Linked DNA regions of Homo sapiens. The protein of the gene in region 2 interacts with the protein of the main gene of each other region in a biochemical or structural test. Each region holds a gene or a part of one and is shown on either strand. Other genes may lie near its edges. The genes, in order: HCK and ELMO1.

Evidence for each region.
Region 1: the proteins of ELMO1 (region 2) and HCK form a complex in vitro, tested with the Homo sapiens proteins (one study listed by BioGRID).

The regions. Positions count from the first base shown.
Region 1 is NC_000020.11:32,082,994-32,090,267, forward strand, and holds part of HCK (tyrosine-protein kinase HCK), read left to right. Parts: intron 1-900; coding exon 901-1,050; intron 1,051-1,397; coding exon 1,398-1,550; intron 1,551-3,634; coding exon 3,635-3,814; intron 3,815-5,574; coding exon 5,575-5,651; intron 5,652-7,274. UniProt on the Homo sapiens protein: Non-receptor tyrosine-protein kinase found in hematopoietic cells that transmits signals from cell surface receptors and plays an important role in the regulation of innate immune responses, including neutrophil, monocyte, macrophage and mast cell functions, phagocytosis, cell survival and proliferation, cell adhesion and migration.
Region 2 is NC_000007.14:37,438,591-37,445,864, forward strand, and holds part of ELMO1 (engulfment and cell motility protein 1), read right to left. Parts: intron 1-7,274. UniProt on the Homo sapiens protein: Involved in cytoskeletal rearrangements required for phagocytosis of apoptotic cells and cell motility. Acts in association with DOCK1 and CRK. Was initially proposed to be required in complex with DOCK1 to activate Rac Rho small GTPases.

The DNA.
Region 1 (7,274 bases), on a different chromosome or scaffold from region 2:
TAGTCTGACCTCACTGGGCTCAAGATGTCAGCAGGGCTGGTTCCTTCTGGAGGCTTCAGGGGAGAATTCATTTTCTTGCCTTTTTTAGTTTCCAGAGGCTACAGCATTCCTTGGCTCATAGTCCCTTCCTGACATCTGTCCAAGCTCTTGTTTCCATCTTCACCTCTTCCACTTTGACCTTCCTACCTCCTTCTAACAAGAACTCAAGGGATTACACTGGGGCTACCTGGATCATCTGGAATAATCTCCCCGTCTCCAGATCCTTAACTTAATCACATCTCTAAAGTACCTTTTACCATGTAAGGTAACATATTCCCAGGTTCCAGGGTTTAGGGCATGACTATCTTGAGGGACCACTATTCAGCCTACCACAGCATGTTCACATTTCAATAACTGGACTGGATTTCTGGGTTTTTTTCCAGAAAAGTCATAGCCTGAGTTTTTATGAAAAAGTAAAAAGTATACTATGGTCTCTTGGCTTTTTGTAGGGTAGATGATAGAAAGATGGAACAATAGATCAGAAATAATGAAGATGATGATGATGATAGCCAACATTTGCAGAGTGTTCAGCTTCCAAGTAGTTTACAGGCATTACTTCTTTTAGCCGTCAGGCAATAGGATCAGGTAGGGAGGCGTGAGAACTATTCCCATTTTACAGATGAGAAAACTGAGGCATAGAGAGGTGACATAGTCACATGGCCAAGGTCTCACGGGTGGATGTGGTAGAGCCTGGATGAGAGCCCAGGATGCCTGGCTCCCACAGCCCACTCAGACCCTCGGGCACTTCTGCCCAGGTGTCAGGACGGTGCCAGCGGTAGCCTTACAGGGTGTCAGAGTGCTAATGCAAGGTGGCAGGCCTCCAAGATGCCATTCTGAGGGGTTTCTCTTTGGTCAATTCAGGAAGCTACTCTTTGTCCGTGCGAGACTACGACCCTCGGCAGGGAGATACCGTGAAACATTACAAGATCCGGACCCTGGACAACGGGGGCTTCTACATATCCCCCCGAAGCACCTTCAGCACTCTGCAGGAGCTGGTGGACCACTACAAGAGTGAGTCCCACCCCAGGGGTGACATCCCCACCACGATGGGCCCACAGACTCCTAGTCACGGATGCACTGTGGCCCCTGAGACCTGCTGTGTCCTTCTTGGCCATCCCCTAGACAGATAGTTGCTTTGGATGCTTCTGAAGGCTTAGGACTGTTGAGCAGGAGGGTGAGGTGGCCAAGATGTAGAGGTGGCACCCCGTCACACTCTGCTTGCTTGGGAATGTCTCTGATGGTGGCAACCAGGTGGAACACTGGAGAGATCCAGTGGACCAGGTAGGGCGGCCTCCAAGGAGCAACCTCTGGCTGGCTCGGTGCTTGTTGCTCTCAATTGACCAGGGACTCTGTTCCAGAGGGGAACGACGGGCTCTGCCAGAAACTGTCGGTGCCCTGCATGTCTTCCAAGCCCCAGAAGCCTTGGGAGAAAGATGCCTGGGAGATCCCTCGGGAATCCCTCAAGCTGGAGAAGAAACTTGGAGCTGGGCAGTTTGGGGAAGTCTGGATGGGTAAGGACCCAGGGCCACAGCCCACAGGGCCAGAGGGTGGAGGGGAGAGGGAGGCCACTTGCTTCCAGGAACACCTTATGGCAAAGCGGGAATGCTACCCAAGGCAGAGGGGGAGATTTAAATAATAGCCATAAAGAAGCAGTTCCCTGATAGCAAACCAAATTGTCTTGCTGTGCAAACACTGATTTGCCTTTGAGACCAGTCCTGTAGTGGTCAAAAACTTCCTTCTGGGAAGCAGGTGTCATGGATGAGGAATCCCTCCCTCATACGGAGTGGGGACTGCCTAACAGTTTGGGATTGAGATAACCAGAGACCTTTTCAGATGATGAAAATTAAGAATGGGGAAATGCAGCTTGGAGATTTCCAGGCAACTGATGAACAGGTTATTCTGAGCACCTGCTGTGTGCCCAGCACTGTTAGGGTCTTGTGGGAAAATCAGAAAGGCACATCTCACACCTGCTGATTTTCCCCAAGAACTTAAGAACAACACTGCCTGCTTTGCAGGGCTGTGGGGTAGATGCAGTGCCAGCCCAGTGTGGGGCAGCCTGCTGTGTTAATACGTTCCAAATGGGAGCGTTCCAAATGGGAGCGAAGACAACTTACAGGGATGCAAACAACTCAGCCAGATAAAATAAGTTTAAAATCCATGTATTTCGACTGTATTTATTGCGATTCTGCTGCATGCAAGGCCGGGCACAGTGGCTCACGCCTGTAATCCCAGCACTTTGGGAGGCCGAGGCAAGTGGATCAATCAAGGTCAGCAGTTCGAGAAAAACCTGGATAGTATAGTGAAATCCCGTCTCTACGAAAAAATACAACAATTAGCCAGGCGTGGTGGTGGGAGCCTGTAATCCCACCTACTCGGGAGGCTAAGGCAGGAGAATCGTTTGAACCCAGGAGGTGGAAGTTGCAGGGAACCGAGATCGCACCACTGCACTCCAGCCTGGGAGACAGAGTGAGACTCTGTCTAAAAAATAATAATAAAATTAAAAAGAATTTGACAAAAAAGAAAATATGGAGAGGAAGGTAAGACAGATCTGAGTGGTGAGATTTGAAAGCCAAAAATATCATATAAGACGCTAGACTCCTACTACAGGAAGCCCACGGTTCTGGATTGGAGCTTCCTGGAAGCCAAGGCAAAATGGAAACCCAAGCAATTATAAAATTGACAAGACCCACCAAATGAAGCAGGGTGGGGTGAGGGGAGGGAACAGCATGTGCCAAATCCCTGTGGTGGGAGGTGAGTTGGGTGCTTGAGGGACTGAGTGACCTGCAGGGTGACTGGCACATAAAAGGCAAGGGGAGTTTAGTGGCTGATGAGGCTAGAGGGGTGGACGAGGCTGGGTCATGTAGGGCCTGGGGGTCATAGTAAGTCTGGCATTTATTTAAGAGCAGTGTTAAGATTAAAGTGGGCGGTGTATGTGTGTGACATAACCTGAGTAGTGTTTTAAAGCTATTTTTATTTGTTTGGGTTTTTTGTTTGTTTGTTTGTTTGAGACAGAGTCTCGCTCTGTCACCCAGGCTGGAGTGCAGTGGCTCAATCTTGGCTCACTGCAAGCTCCGTCTCCTGGGTTCACACCATTCTCCTGCCTCAGCCTCCCCAGTAGCTGGGACTACAGGCGCCCACAACTGCGCCTGGCTAATTTTTTGTATTTTTAGTAGAGACGGGGTTTCACCGTGTTAGCCAGGATGGTCTCGATCTCCTGACCTTGTGATCCGCCCACCTCGGCCCCCCAAAGTGCTGAGATTACAGGCGTGAGCCACTTAGAGCTATTTTTAAATCCTTGCAACAGCACTTCAAAGGCAAAGCTTACCATTTCCACTTTACAGATGAGGAAGCTGAGGAAGCCACGGCTCAGAGACGTTAAGCCACTTGCCCTAGTGTGCACAGCTGGGAAGTGGTGAACCCGCCTTTCAACCCACAGTTGTCTGAGGCCTAAGCCCATGATTTCGCTTCCCTCTCTGAGAGTTGAGATGAGCAGGAAAGACTTTCTGGAGGAGGCGGGTCTGCAGCTGGGCCTTCTAGGGTGGTACGGGAGACCAGTGGGCTCTGACCACCTTCCCTGCTCTCTATCCCCCTCCAGCCACCTACAACAAGCACACCAAGGTGGCAGTGAAGACGATGAAGCCAGGGAGCATGTCGGTGGAGGCCTTCCTGGCAGAGGCCAACGTGATGAAAACTCTGCAGCATGACAAGCTGGTCAAACTTCATGCGGTGGTCACCAAGGAGCCCATCTACATCATCACGGAGTTCATGGCCAAAGGTGCTGCGTGCTGGGGCTGGGGGTGCAGGCTGTGGCCTATACTGGTCAATTGCGGGCCCAAGGGTGGCTTGGACATGGTTCTTGCCCTTGAGATGGCCCCAATCTGGCCAGGAGCTCTTCCAACAAGTACTCATTGAGAATCTAATGTGGAACAATCCAGCCCTCCTGGTTAGTGGGGTGAAATCATGTTAAGGGGTCACCAAGGGGAAGGGAGAACAAGGGGCTACCAGGAGAAGGGAATGGGGCCAGAATACTCCTGGGCAATGGGAGAAGGGGCTTATGGTTCACAGTGAGCCTTAGAGGCCAGGGTGTGGCATGGGTGGTGGGGGTGCCACTCTCCCGCATCAGCCACCTTCCCTGTACTTGCCAAAGCCCTGGGAGAGGGAGCTGGCAAAGCAGCAGTTCTGCCCCCACCCCCGCCCTGCCACAACTCAGGATTTCTTGGGGAATTTTTTTAGGCCACTGTTTCACAACCATTTTCAACCCCTGCCATTTTTTGTTTGTTTGTTTTTTAGGGACAGGAACTTGCTCTGTTACTCAGGCTGGAGTGCAGAGGTGCAATCATAACTCCTGGGCTCAAGTGATCCTCCCACCCCAGCCCCCCGAGTGGCTGGGACCACAGGCCCATGCCACCACACTCAGCTAATTTTATTTATTTATTTACATATTTATTTTTAGAGACAGGGTTGCCCTCTGCCTACCCAGGCTGGAGTGCAGTGGCGTGATCATAGTTCACTGTAGCCTCAAACTCTCAGGCTCCAGGATCCTCCCGACTTAGTCTCCCCAGTAGCTGGCACTACAGGCATGCACTACCACACCCAGCTAATTTCTAAAAAAATTTTTTTTTTTTTTGAGACAGAGTCTCACTCTGTTTCCCAGGCTGGAGTGCAGTGGCACAATCTCGGCTCAATGCAAGCTCCACCTACCAGGTTCACGCCATTCTCCTGCCTCAGCCTCCCAAGTAGCTGGGACTACAGGTGCCTGCCACCATGCCTGGCCAATTTTTTTGTATTTTTAGTAGAGACGGTGTTTCACCGTGTTAGCCAGGATGGTCTCAATCTCCTGACCTTGTGATCCGCCCGCCTCAGCCTCCCACCATGCTGGAATTACAGGCGTGAGCAACTGCGCCCAGCTTCTAAAATTTTTTTCTAGAGACAAGGTCTCGCCATCTTGCCCCAGCTGGTCTCAAACTCCTGGGTTCAACTGATCCTCCCAAAGCTTTGGGATTATAGGCATGAACCACTGAGCCTGGCCTAACATATATATTTGTAAATTTCTTCTATAGATGGGGTCTTGCGATGTTGCCCAGGCTGGTCTCAAACTCTTGGCCTCAGGTGATCCTCTCACCTCGGTCTCCTAAAGTGTTGGAATTACAGGAGTGAGCCTCGTGCCTAGCCACTCTGCCCATTTTTTGATAAACAGAATCATCTCATGCAATCCCATTTAGTGCGATTTGAAACCTCAAGCCTTTTTCATTTTAACTATGCAATTATGCCAGTCCTGTGAAGGCATGATCCCAGCCATCCAGGCTCAGGGGCTGTCTCAGTCACAGAATCCATCTAGCAATCAAAAAGTCACTTCACTAAAACTCAATTCTCTTTCTCAAACACTAGGAATTGCAAACAAATATTCGTATTTAAATCTACTACTATGAAAAATCTTCACCACACACTAAAGTACTAGATTGGTGCAAAAGTAATTGTGGTTTTTGCCATTAAATAGTAAAAGTAGTAAATGTTCCTCCCCTCTCCCCCATATAGGAAGCTTGCTGGACTTTCTGAAAAGTGATGAGGGCAGCAAGCAGCCATTGCCAAAACTCATTGACTTCTCAGCCCAGGTGAGAGCCTAACGAGGAAACGGGGAAGGGAAACAGGAATTCGATTTTTTTACTTGCCAAATATTTACTGACCACATACTATGATGATAGCAGTAATAATAATGGGTAAAATGTATTGAGAGCTCAGTATAAAACTATGTTTTTTGCATATATTTTATTATACATGTACTCATTCATTTAATCATCCTATAAGCTTTATAGGCTGGGATTTTTGTTATCTATTTTGGTATAACAAACCATCCAAGTCCTAGTAGCTTGAAACAACAGCAATTGTTATTTCTCATGATCCTGTGGGTTGCCTGGGTTCAGCTGGGTGGTTCTTCTGCTCGTCATGGTAAAGTGAGGTGCAGATGTTGGCACTTGCCCAGGCTAGAATGTCCAAGACATGGCTCAGCCTCCAGGGTCTCTCCACATAGCCCCTCACCACCCAATCACCCAGCCTGAGCTTCTTCACGGCGCAGCAGCTGGGTTCCAAGACAGAGCTGGACCAGGGGCCAAGCCTTCATGAGCAGGCTCTCATTAAGCCTCTGCCTGCATCAGGCTTGCTAATGGCCCATTGGCCAAGTCACATAGCCATGCCCAGAATCAGTGTGGGAGGGGACTGACCAAGGACACAAATCCCAGGGACCCCCTCAATGTAACAGTCTGGCCACAGAGTAGGTAATTATCATCCCATTTTACAGAATAGGAAATTGAAGCATAGAGCAGAAGTAAAGTACAGATGTGGAAACTGAGCCCCAGTGTGGTTAAGTGGCTTGCACAAGTTACTGTGCTAATTATGGGGGATATAGCAGTGAACAAAATGAAAATGTTCCTGTCCTAATAGAGTTCACAATCCAGGTGGGAAGATGAGTATTAAATAACCAAATCTCTTAGAGACCATGACCCAAGTGGTCCTGGCTGAGTCAAAAGAGCACAGTATCTAACAAAGTAAATAATGTTCACAAATCGCAAAAACACTGCTGAAAACCTAATTTTCTTTCTCATGTTCCCCACGCCCCTTGCAGCTCCTCTCACCCCCAGCCTAAGCAGTTTTTTCACTTCTGTCCTCTCTCATGCTCTCTCTGATGTCTGGGAAAACAGAGTGTAAGGACGGGGTGGTATTAGAGTGCATAGCTAGAGCATTTAGCCTGGTCCAGGAGCAATCAGAGAATGCTTCCTGGAGGAAGTGGCCTCTAGGCCGAGCCTGAAGGATGAATAGAAGTTCAGTAGATGAAGAGAAAAGGTAAAGGTCTTTTAGACAAAAGAAACAGCCTGTGCAAAAGTAGGTGAAGGAGTTCAGCCTACTCAGCAGGAGCCCAGGGATAGTGGGAGTTGAGTGAGACCCTGCCTGGGCCTCAGCTGGGCCTGCTGGAGATGCCAAGGGCAGGGCTCATTTGAGTATGCAAATTCAGGGGCCCAGAGGACACCACAAAGTGTAACAAAAGACTCTACTTTCAGAGCCTGGAATGCCAGAGGCATATGGAAATGTGTTTTCACTCCTATGGGCCAGGTCCTCTGGGAGACAATAGACTGGTCTGTTGCTAAATTATCATCTTCAAACTAGCAGAAGCCCTGCTGGGCAGCAGTCACCGACCAGGGCAAGAGCCACTCTGCCCGTTTCACAGAGGGGAAAACAAACCA
Region 2 (7,274 bases):
CTCTGTCTCAAAAAAAAAAACACTACTGAATCAGTGATAATAACCTCAATAATAATAGCAAATCCAACCCAACGCTTTTAGGGTACTCTACTTTACAATCATGATTGCATTTAATCATCTCAGCTACTCGAAGAGGTGGGGACTTATATTACCTACACTTGAAAGATGTGAAAACTGAGGCTAAGGAAGATCACTAACTTACCTGAAGTCACCCATCTGCTGTACTCAACAGGAGATCTGAACCCTCCATTAACAAGTATGTGCTTATGGCGCTTTAAACCTCAAAGACTCCTTCTCCTTTTTCCCAAATCCAATCACTTAGCAAATCATTTAATTTTGTCATCAATATCTACAGGCAAACACGGTGAGTGCTGGCCTCCCCTCCTTTACCTCTGCTCAGACTCTGGCTGGCACCCGCTGGAAGGCGGGGGCTGGACAACCTGTCTCCTAGTTGCATTGGCACAGCAAGCACACTGCTTTGTTTATTTATTCATCTGACCAAGACCATGTATTTATTTGAGCAGGCCTAGCAGGAGCTCCCATCTTTCCTCTGCCCCTCCCTCCAGCTGTACCATCTAATCTATCCTCCAGGTTGCTCTCACTGGAATGCACTGCATCTTTTCCTTGCCTAAAAGCCTTTGGCTTTCCTTTCTGCTGAATCCAAATGCCCAGCTCCTGGGATTGCTGACATAAAGCCCCTTCCAGACTGTCCTCCATCACCCTGATTGCTATATTCCCTGGATGTATCATATTCTTTCTCTTAATACTCAGCTTTCCAGATCTTTCTCAAAAGTCACCTCATTTGTGAACACCTACCTCTGTGATCTGCAATCACGGTAAACATACCTTTAGCATACTGTTATGACTGTCTCTAAACAGATTTGCCTGTTACAGCCCTCCCTACCCCTTCTCCACATATGGAGTGCCCAGGCTACAGCATACAAATTACAAGCAAAGTGGCTGTTGACTGACTTGAATGACTGAATGAAGCATTATGATCAGGGCTATAAGCCCAGCAATAGTTTAGCTTGAAAATATTTATATACATTTTAAGGATAAGCTCAACATCTGTTTTTAAAATATACTACAATTAATAAATAAAGCTTTACTGTGCTTCTCTCATATAAACCCAAGCAAATGTTTCTCAAAAACCTTCAGTTGGAGAATGGACAGTAATTGAGAAAGTAGTTCTAATGAGTCAAAGTCGCTTCCTGGCAGTGGAGTAAGCCTAGAGATGATGGAAACATATTCATTCCTTGACAAAATGTTTAATTTCATGTGATTTGTGCTGACTTACTATAAAAGTGACAGCACTGGAGAAAACAGGATTTAGCAGCTGATATAATTGTTTCTTTGCTTCTAAAGGCCTTTCATTATTAGAGCTGCATGGGTGTGTGTGTGTGTGTGTGTCTTTCTCTCACACACACATATATGTACAAAGCACTTATTATTTAATATATCAAAGAATCGGTCCCACTCCCCCAAACCAAAATTTCTGAGTAGTGGTCACTTCCCAGAGTGGCCCACAATTGGAATAACTGAGGCACAAGTCCACTATAAAAAAATCTAGGGGCCAGGCACAGTGGCTCATGTCTGTAATCACAACACTTTGGGAGGCCAAGGCAGGCGGATCACAAGGTCAGGAGTTCGAGACCAGCCTGGTCAATATGGTGAAACCTTGTCTCCACTACAAATACAAAAATTAGCCAGGTGTGATGGCAGGCACCTGTAGTCCCAGTTACTGGGGAGGCTGAGGCAGAAGAATCACTTGAACCCAAGAGGCAGAGGTTACAGTGAGCCACGATCGTGCCACTGCACTCCAGCCTGGGCAACAGAGCAAGACTCTAGCTCAAAAAAAAAAAAAAGAAAAGAAAAGAAAAAGAAAGAAAAAACAAAGAGGCTGGGTGTGGTGGCTCACACCTGTAATCCCAGCATTTTGGGAGGCTGAGGCGGGTGGATCACGAGGTCAGGAGTTTGAGACAAGCCTGACCAACATGGTGAAACCCCATCTCTAATAAAAATACAAAAATTAGCCAGGCATGGTGGTGGGCATCTGTAATCTCAGTTACTCAGGAGGCTGAGGCAGGAGAATCGCTTGAACTCGGTTGGCAGAGCTTGCAGTGAGCCAAGATCGCGCCACTACACTCCAGCCTGGGTGACAGAGTGAGACTCCATCTCAAAAAAAAAAAAAAATCTAGGAAACTGTGGGGTGGGGAGAGTTGGAGGGGTGGACGGGAGTCAAATAAAAACCAGCCTTACTGAGTGTTATTGGAATTCACTCCTCACTTGACCAAAAATGAGCAATCTGACCAAACTCCTCCACTAGCTCTACCTCCCAAGCCACATGCTTTCTGAGGGCCAAGGGTAAAGCCAGCTGTGGTTACGCATTTGGGCTAAAGAGACCAAAAACAAAAAAAAAATTATTTTGAAATGGATTACTCTTCAAAATTAAGGGTAATTGTGTGTAGCAGCCTGGAAAATACAGCTCATCCAGCTCTGCCACTGAACCCCACAGCACAAAACTCTGGCGTTCTAAATGCAATTCTGAACTGAAAAAAAAAAAAAGACACAAAGGGCGGAAGGAAGGGTGGAGGGTTGCTATAGGGCTGGTGAACTGTAAGAAGGCGGCTGCCTAGGGGAGTCATAGCTAGTCTATAACCCAGCATATTTCTACGGCACTTAAGCCACTCGATGGTGTTCTGGACTACGACAGCAGCCAAGCAGAGAAGGTAAATAAAAGGCTGACAGATAATTACATAAGAAAGTTAACATGGCAAGATTAGGACAGAAATCTAATATACAAAGTGGGAAAGGACTTCGCATAAAGCAGTACCTTGAAGGCTTCTCCCTGACCTGCTACAATGTCCTGGTCGCACTAATGGAATATCAATAACCATTACTATCCAACTAGTCAAGGTGGATTTGACAAGCAAAGGAGGAGGCACTGAACTCACTTAACTCATTCCCACACAGACATTTCCTTTGTCTTGTGACAAAGGCCTCTGAACAAGCCAAGCTGAGCTTTGCTACCCACCTCCCTCATTTCATTTATCTTATTGCCATTATGTAAAGGTTACAGTTAAGGCAGTAACCAGTGGTCAGAATTCAAAACGTTGTTAAGAAACTGAGACAAAAACTCACTAGTTACAGTGTTTTTCAGCCACAGGTACTAGGAAGAAACATGCATGGAAAGGAAACTTGAAAAACATTTGGATTAGAGAAACAACTGCAGTATAAGAGAGAAGAGAGCTAGAAAGGAAACTTGGAGAGCTGGAGGAAAGAAATGAACATAAAGGGTGAGCCCTCTCATTTATTAATACACCACCTTAGACTCTAAGGAATAACCAGTAAGGAGAAAACTGGGGCACTTATAACTGCTGTTGAAAGTCTAGACTATCTGATAACACACAACTGGTCTCACTAACACAGGAAGACAAAGCAGCAGTTCTCAGCTTGGGGACAGGAAAATTGATAGGACAATCTGCAATACCTGGAGACATCTGGGGTTGTCACAAACGACTAATGTACTGGCATTAGTGAACAGAGGCCAGGGAAGGCAGTAAACATTCGACAGTACACAGGACAGCCCTTACAACAAAGGATTATCCAGCCCGAAATGTCAATAGCACTGAGGCTGACACTGCCTGAAATAATGGGTCAGTAAAATGGCCAACAGCCTACAAGTAGAAAAAGAACCGTACAAGTAGCCTCAGCATCGCCCAAAGGAGAAACCATCACGGTCAAAGGACTCCAGTCTCTGGTTTTCTTAGTTGGTATGAATCTATCAACAAGAGAATTAGCAAAAGTTATGAGGAGCTGGAAAACACTGTCAAGTATATTCCCCTTCCAACTGGTTCCTTCCCAGGTGGTTCCATGCTTTTGCCTTCACCATGACTCATCCACAGAGGAAAAATGTTGGCTAAAGAATAAACGCCCATTCTTCTTGGCAAATACTGTTCTCATTTTTTATTAATAAATTGCATTCTAGCTCATATGCTTCAATATCATGAGGTTGGCTGATGGACATACTGTCCCTGAGAGAAGAATCCATTGACTCTCAAAACTAAGGTCAACTTTAGAATGAGATACCCAAAGAGAGGGATTGACTCTGAAGAACTAGGACTCAGTGGCAGCATTGACATCCCTGGATACCATGGCAACCCAGGGCACATCCATCTGCAGGACATACAGGAGTGAAGAGCCTCTCTGGACACCACTGCAGCATAGCTCCACATGGCATCCTGGCCTCAGAGGCTGGCAAGTCCAGTGAACCAACAAAAGAAGGAACTAACCAGTGCAGACATCATGGTGCAGGAGAAAGAAACAACGCAGTAAAACGAGTCAGAAAAGTTGGGTTTAAGGCTCAGATGCACTCTCTAAGTATGCTTGTGACATTTCATTCCTCCAAGCCACATCTGTAAAATGGGATAACAATACTATTCTGACTGTTCTCCATCATTTCCAAAACAGCATCCCCAGAGGAAGGGTGTGTCAGGCCACAGAGAAAAATGTCGCATTGATCCTATGACTCCACCTCCACTGAGAGAATGCTTTATAGGGCTTACCTGATTTTCATTCCCTCAAACCACCATTCCCTATCCAGAGTACAACCCACTGAACACATCTCAGTCCTTAGTCCAGCAAGTTGTGCCTCTCCAGTGTTTTCTACTGAGGAAAGTTTTGTTTTCTACCTTAACTGTTAGAACTAAAACAGTCAAAACTGTAGCCTCAATTCCTAAAATTGAAGTTCCAATAATAATTCTGTTCAGATTCTGGAAATCAGTGTTTGTGGGGGCCCGGAACACTGAGAATCGTCTCCTTCTATTTATACATGTGACTAATTTCTCGACTCAGCACTATGCCAGTTTGTTACTGTAGTTAATTCTGTTTGATGAGCTAGCATTCCTTCTCCCACACGTATTCCTATCTGATACTTAACTGTTCACCCCACCTTAGGCCAATGACCAAATTCTGCTCGTACCGTACCTGCACTTATATTGTAACAGGTTAGAAAATACAGCACTAAGACACAAGTAGTTAATGTAATCAGGAATCATGATATGGCTTTGCAGGCTTTAGTTCTGGCTAATATAGATAAGTTCCAATTGTTAACACTCAAACAACCCAAATTATCCAGGGAAATAAGCATTGCAACCAGTGTGTGCATTGTACATGCAGGCTGGCTTTGCTGAACCTAAAAATGCTGTGCTGGCATACTGGAAGGCTTTCATGGCCACACACATGGTCCTGGGAGCCACACCCTGTGGAATGACTGGCCTTCATGATCCTTTTATTATGGACAGTGCAGAAGTTCTCAGACTCTTTTTTTAAAGAGATGGGGTCTTTTTCTGTCCCCCAACCTGGAGCACCGTGGTGAGATCACAGCTCACTGCAGCCTCAGACTCCTGGACTCAAGCCATTCTCTTGCCTCAGCCTACCAAGTAGCTGGGACTACAGGTGCATGCCATCATACCCAGCTAATTTTTTAACTTTTGAGAGATGTGGTCTCGCTATGTTGCCCAGGCTGAGTTGTCAGCCTTTGACTTTCTTCTTTGGATAGCCAATCCAAGCCCAGGTCAGCTAAAATGCTTCACCTAATCATGCATCCCAGCAGTGTGGCTGCCTCCAGAAGAGATTACAACTGTCTTTGTAATTAGAATCATTCATGTGGGGAACACTAGATGTAAAATATGAAAGGAGAAGTTGAGCAGAGTAAATTTCCAAAGACCTCAAAAGTTCTAAACTAAAACTTGGTGAGAAAAGGGGATAGTCTGTCGATTTTATTCTAAGTAAGGTTAAAGAGTTATTGCAAAGGGAGCTACTGCCTTTCTGCATCACTAAAGTGAAAAGCATGTCACTTGAGTTTCTAGTTCCTCCAAGATGGCAGCATGAGGGCCTAGCGCACTGGCAAGTTCTACAAATAGTGGCATTTTTTTTTTTGAGATGGAGTCTTGCTCTGTCGCCCAGGCTGGAGTGCAGTGGCGCAATCTCAGCTCACTGTAAGCTCTGCCTCCCGGGTTCACTCAATTCTCCTACCTCAGCCTCCAGAGCAGCTGGGACTACAGGCACCCACTACCACGCCCGGCTAATTTTTTTTGTATTTTCAATAGAGACGGGGTTTCACCGCCTTAGCCAGGATGGTCTGGATCTCCTGACCTCGCAATCCACCCGCCTCGGACTCCCAAAGTGCTGGGATTAGAGGCGTGAGCCACCGCGCCCGGCCAATAGTAGCATTTTGAAAAGTTAAGTCAATAGCCGACAGAACTGCATCTGGTTCAACATTTGGAAATAGCATCTCCTGCAGGGGGTTAAACCAACAGTATTTTGTTAAAAGGAGATAGCTAAGTATTTCTTGTAGCCCTCTAGAACGTCGTCATCAGAATCCCTGGCAAGTTGGTTAAAAATGTAGTTTTCCCCAGAATTATTGAAACAGGCTTTTTAAAATCGTTACCTACACTGAGCAATACTTTGACATTAAGACTGGGTGTCTGTTTTATGAAATGCTGTTTTCCACACCACTCTTCTCTTTCACATTTTAAACTGCTGGTCTTGGCCTACTAAAGTGATATCATGATCCGCTCATGGGTTACAGCCGTAAGCTTAAAAAGCACTTCTCTGGTTGACTAGAAGGAACCAGAACTAAAGTTGCACAATTAGTAGCAAACACTCCAGGCTTTGTGATGCAGAGAGGGTTTCTTAATCCACCACGTTTTCCAGATTCAACAGAATGTCTTATAAACCAAACTATCTACTTGGATGGTTTCAGGCACCAAAAAGTGGTTACAAGCTTGAGTTACAAACCTTAATTGTATCCACTGTCTTAGATCTGGAAGGGAAATGTTACCTCCATAGGAATGATCACCTTTAACCCTTGAGCATTAGGCAACCTGATGAAGTAAGCACAGTGTGTGATCAGGTGAGCTCCTTGCCTCACCCCCAGCCACATCCTTCAGCAAAGGCTTCAAAGCCCTTTCCCCACCCGCCCCACCCACTCACACCAAACACCCAAAGGGGTTAAATTACTTTGAAACACTCAAGAGTTAGCTTCTTTTCAATATAGTAATTTAGTAAATGTTCAAGACTTAGCTGCACCTGCAGAACACCTTAATGTTTTCTCACTTTTATTTTTCTTCTCCTAGGCATTTCTCATCTCCCCTGCATCTGCCACACAGCCTCCCTTACAGCCTCCTGTCTTCACTTCCATATTGTAGGAGAGCAGAATGGGACACAGTAGATGCCTCTGACTTCAATCCCCTTACAATCATGCCCTTCCT